Regions from separate parts of the Homo sapiens genome. Here region 2 is linked to region 1. The links come from fine-mapping of genetic effects on gene expression. Tissue or cell type: whole blood. Region 1 holds a variant in brackets; the other region holds the start of a gene. All regions are shown on one strand. Distances are from middle to middle.

Region 1 (2,684 bases):
CTTTCCCTGGAACCCCATTTTTTTAAAGGAAGTGACCCTGTTGGTATCTAGCTTGAGGAACAACAAAGGTGGTTTTTGAGAAAAATTATTAACAAGGCTCCTTCCTGTCATCCGTGCATTCTCCTATCCTCCCTGCCCTGCACCGTTGTCCTTTAGCCACTCCCCAATTTCTTCTATCTTCCCTGCTCACATCAAAACTTCCTTTCCCTTACTGCAAGCAATACCTTTCTGTGTTGGCTTAGGAGAATAATGAGCTAATGAAACTCATTTCCAGTAAATTATGAGTAATTAATAATATTGCTAAGCATTATTGTGTATTCACTGTGTGCCAGGCACTGTGCAAAATGCTTTAGAAATGTATTATCTCACCTAATTGTCATATGTTTTAAAAAACATATGAGATGGGTACTTTTGTGATTACTCCCATTTGACAAATGAGAAAACTAAGGCTCAGAGAAATAATTTACCTAGGGTCACGCTATTACTGAGTAGTAGTAGTGGTGGTGGTGGTGATGGTGGTGGTGGTGGTGGTGGCAGTAGTGGTAGTAGTGGTAGTAGTACCTGAATCTGAACCGAGGTCTGGTACCATCGTCCGTATTCTTAACCACTGTACGGTTTTCCAGCCTCCCCTTCTTATCAGTCTCCTCTTGCCGGTTTGAAAATTAGGGCAAAGTTAATATTTACAAACCTTAAAATTCTAATTAGCAGAAACTGAAAATGTATATGTGGGGCATATTTAATATTTCTAACTAGAGTAAAGGAGGAGACTTTATACATACTCCGTCACTTAGGGATATGCAATTGATGTGAGAAAGAGAGGAGCCTCGGTAATTTTTCATGCCACCCAGGCATCTTTTTTTCCCTCAGGCTGATCCCAGAATTGCTGCCACCCTTTTTTCTGCCCTCTGCCTAAAGCTGGCCCTAAACCCATGACTCTCTTCCTGTGTGGACTGTGCTGTAGCTTGCTGAGGAAGGGCTGTACTGAGGTGTCAGAAGCCTCCTTGCAGTGCTGGTCCTTGGGTATTGTGTCTGTTGGTAGAAGTAACCAATGAATAAGCCACTGCCAGAACTGTTCCGCCTGCCCAGTTTTCGTGTGAATTTTCTAATGTAGCTTGCGTGCCAACGCCTTAATTTAAAAAAACAAAACAAAACACTTTGCCCAGAACTTTGTTTCTCACTCCTTTCCAAAATAGTCACCAGCTGTTGTTAACCACATGCCATCTGGGTGCCCAGGTAAGGAGAAAGCCCTCCAGTGTTCAATTAACTGTGGATTATTTTCTTTTCTTCGGCAGGAAAAGGAAAAAGAAAAAGATAAGATTAAGGAGAAGGAGAAAGATTCTAAAGACAAGGAGAAAGATAAGAAGACTGTCAACGGGCACACTTTCAGTTCCATTCCTGTTGTGGGTCCCATCAGCTGTAGCCAGTGTATGAAGCCCTTCACCAACAAAGATGCCTATACTTGTGCAAGTAAGAGACATGCTTCTTCCTCTCGTAAG[A/G]TGGAACTCTCTTGGCTCAAGAAAGCTCATTTCTTGTTTCCTGTCCCCACTCATTATCTGTTCCTCATTTATGTGGAGAAGTAACCCTTTTTATATCTTTCTTTAGACATGATAAAAGAAAGAAATTCTAGATGTATAACATACAGCCTATATTTTTTTCAGACAGCCCCAATTTCAAATACAGTCAAGTTAAGATGGTTCAGCCTAGCTTTTTAACTTTACAGTGGTTCAAAAGCAATACACGTTCAGTAGAAACTGTACTTTGAGTGCTGGTACACTCATTTCGTTTTTCACATTTAGTGCAGTATTCAATAAATTACATGAGATAGTCAACACTTTATCATAAAACTGGCTTTGTGCTAGATAATTTTGGCCAACTATAGTCTAATGTAAGTGTTTTGAGCATGTTTAAGATAGGCCAGGCTAAACTATGATGTCCAGAAGGTTAGGTGTATTTAAATGCATTTTTGACTTAATAGTATTTTCAATTTACCATGGGTTTATGTGGATGTAGCCTCATTGAAAGGATGAGGAGCATCTGCACTCTGTTCTATGATCTCTAAACCACTGCACGTTTTAAAAGTCTGTGTCAGCATCAAAATTATCCATAACCCCAAACCCTAAAGCTACTCAGTGGTCTTCTGTTAGATCATATGTGCTCATTTTTATTCTATTACTTTGGTATATGCTTCAGCCATTACCAACATTAAGCCATAGTGACGGCCAAGGGAGAGCACCTCCGTGCTCAGGGACATTCTGTGCTGACCTGCTGAAAGCCAAGTCTGCTAACTGAGCATTGTTCCTGGTTTTGATAAGACACTCTCAGGCAGGAGTTGCTTAACTTTTTCTGTACAAGACCAGATAAAAAGTATCTTAGGCATCGTGACCCACATGGTCTCTGTCACAATTCTTGAACTCTGCAGTTGCAGTGCAAAAGCAGCCGTAAGCAATACATAAACCAATGAGTGTGATTCCAATAAAACTTCACTTATGGATACTGAAATTTGAATTTCATAAAATTTTTGTTATGTAATAGTTTTTTGATTTTTAAAAACTATTTAAAATGTAAAAATTATTCTTAGCTCATGGGCTATACAAAAATAGGCTTCAAGCCACATTTAGCCCACAGACCATAATTTGCACGTTTTTGCTGTAAGGCAGTGCATCTCAAAATTTTGTCAGTGCACA
Region 2 (2,684 bases), 310 kb before region 1:
AAGTGCACTAAAGTGCACTGGATGTATTTTTTATTCATGTATATACTTTTGTTATCTATCACCCAGGTCAAAATACAGAACCAGCACCCCAGAGGGTTCCCTCCTCCTCCTTCCCAGCCAATAATCTTCTCCTCCTACCTAACCGCTGTTCTTACTTCAATCACTATCAACTAGTTTTACACGTTCTTCAACTGCATATAAATTGTCTCAGTTTTTTACTTAACACTTTTCTTGAAGTGCTTTCGTTTTTTGCCACTTTTTATTTGACCTAAGAAATAACATTAATGAAACAGTGGTTTGACGTGATAGGCATTTCCCTCCTAATGCGCACTAAAAACACTTAACTATTTGAAAAAAGAAGTTTCTTCGTGTACCAACTAATATATTCTCCGCCCTGTCTCCAGAAACCGCCCTTCCTCTGTGGGCCGGTGGTTACCGGCACCATTGGTACACGGACCACATTTTGTTTCCCAAAGCAACCAGATGATTTTTGAGGTCCTTTGCAGCTCGAACACGGAATGACTTTGTGGTGATCGAGTAGCCAGAAGTTCACGGAATGCACTGTCACAATTGTGATTCCGCCATAGCGCCGTGCATCCATCCAACACTTGTTTAATACCTATATTTAATACCTAATACCTTAGACGGTCCTAGGCTGTGGACACAGAAGACTAAACCCCACTTCCTGAGTTGAAGTGGGGGAAATAGAGGAGTAAATCATTTCACGATGTGTGGTTAAGTGCTGCAGCTCAGGTAACCACCAGTACACAGAGGAAGGGCGGTTTCTGGAGACAGGGCGGAGAGGAGACCGTGGGTGGGCATTTCCCAGAGCAGCCTCTGCCAGCCACCCTACTTTGATCACTTTGCCGCCGAGCAGCAGCGGCGGTCAACCTCAGCCTCCCTTAGCAACCTGAGTGCCCCGTCCAGGAGCCTTACTATTGGTCTCATGCAGCGAGATGGGCAGTTCTGCCGTGCAATCCCAGCTCGCAGTTCTTGCTCCGCGTGTACTCACGGGAGGACTCGCAGGCGTTACCGCCTTCCCGCGTGCCCCGCCCACCCTCCCGAGCGTCTTTCGGCGCATGCGCGGACTGGAGCTGTGTGCAGGGCCAGCGCGGAGCCCGAGCAGCCGCGGTGAAGCGCCTGTGCTCTGCCGAGACTGCCGTGCCCATTGCTCGCCTCGGTCGCCGCCGCTTTAGCCGCCTCCGGGGGAGCGGCCGCCTATTGTCTTTCTCCGCGGCGAAGGTGAAGAGTTGTCCCAGCTCGGCCCGCGGGGGAGCCCCGGGAGCCGCACGGTGAGAGCGCAACTTAGTTGGCGGAGTTGGGGGAAGTTTTGTGATTTGTGGGTCGGGGCGCGGAGCGCGGCCAGTCCCCTGCGGTTGCTCGGTGGGGCGGGCCCCGGAGGAGGGGCGGGGGCTGCGGGGGTTTCGGGGGCGGGCTGGACAGACGGGTCGCCGGGCGGCGCCGGGACCTCAGGTCTGCGGACCCCTCCTCCCTGCGCATCGCCCTTCTCCCGCATTGTCTGCTTGGGGCTCGGCGCGCCTCCCACTCCGCAGCCCAACTTAGAGGCCGTCGCCGCTTTCCGGGTGGGGGGCGCGCCCGGCCGCCGATGCTACCTCAGGCGCTCCGCCCCCAGCGAGGCCCCGAATCCTTGCCCCGGGTCCCCGGGTCGGCGCCGCCGGGGCGGGCTCACTCCTCCCCTGGGGCGGGCGGCCGCGGTGTGGAGTCCCCGCCGTGGAGTCCGCGCCGTGAACAAGTGCTGCGGGCGCGAGGGAGCGGCTCCCCGGGGTCGACGCGGACGGTAAACACGTCGGGCCGCGCCTGCCTGTCGGTGCCTCTCCGCGGCTTCTCGGGGGTGCGGCCCAGCTGACCCGCGCGGGTCGCAGGCGAGCGGCCCAGGAGACCCGTGCGGTCCCCACGCGCTCTGGGACCCGTGCAGCCAGCCGGCTCAGCTTGCAGCTATACTTTGATACCAAACAAAACTTTTTTTTTTTTTTTTGGTAAATACGGTTTACTGCTTTTTTTTTTTTTTTTTTTTTGCAAAGCCACGAAGTATGTGAAGTTGAAAAAAGGAAAAACCCTAAAACTTTTTAAAAAAAAATCAAGAAAGGGGGTAGATAGGTTTGTTTTGTTTTGGAAATAGTTCTTATAGCAGAGTGATACCGTCCCATTTAATTTTCTAGATCCCGGAATTCACAATGAAAATTGGATTGAGCGGTATTTTGGTGTTCATTCTTTGCTAATGACACTCCTTAATGAAGTTATTTGGAGAGTTTATTGCTTCAGTACAGTAAAAACCAGTGTGCCTTTTTTTTTGTTAGTAGTCCCCCCCACAACAAGTGTTTTATTTTTAGAAGAAGCATTTTCTTCAGTTTTTCTGAACTGTTGGATTGCGCAGATGAGGACAAACGGTGCAGTTCTTGAAAGGTCATTATTGGCAAGTTTGTGAAGAAGCTAAGATCAGTTGAGATAAATCATTGTTACTATTCTTGTATTCTGTCGTGGACTCTTGGGGATTTGCAGGCTGCATTAAGTACAAGTTTTGTCAAGTTTGGGTGCACATATTACACTTAATTTGGTTTGTGTGGCTTATTATATGAACATGATTCTGTTTCAGTTCCCCAGATGGAACTAGCTTAAATGTCTGTCATTCATAGTGGAGCAAAATGGCCAGAGTGTCATTTATT

Evidence for each region. PIP is the estimated chance that this variant, and not a neighbour inherited with it, causes the effect.
Region 2: AKAP13 starts here. The variant in region 1 is fine-mapped to the expression of AKAP13 in whole blood (TOPMed, PIP 0.93).

What each region holds. Positions count from the first base shown.
Region 1 is chr15:85,691,985-85,694,668 of GRCh38, forward strand. It overlaps AKAP13 (A-kinase anchoring protein 13), which reads left to right. Exons shown (of 37, transcript NM_007200.5): 17 at 1,293-1,467. Among named protein-coding and RNA genes, the nearest start is that of LINC02883, 65 kb to the right of the region's middle. RefSeq lists enhancers at 746-795, 1,236-1,285. The variant A/G (reference allele first, on the strand shown) is at 1,497.
Region 2 is chr15:85,379,507-85,382,190 of GRCh38, forward strand. It overlaps AKAP13 (A-kinase anchoring protein 13), which reads left to right and starts at 1,097. Exons shown (of 37, transcript NM_007200.5): 1 at 1,097-1,292. It overlaps MIR7706 (microRNA 7706), which reads left to right and starts at 1,090; the gene lies at 1,090-1,156. RefSeq lists silencers at 948-1,027, 1,408-1,977, 1,634-1,801.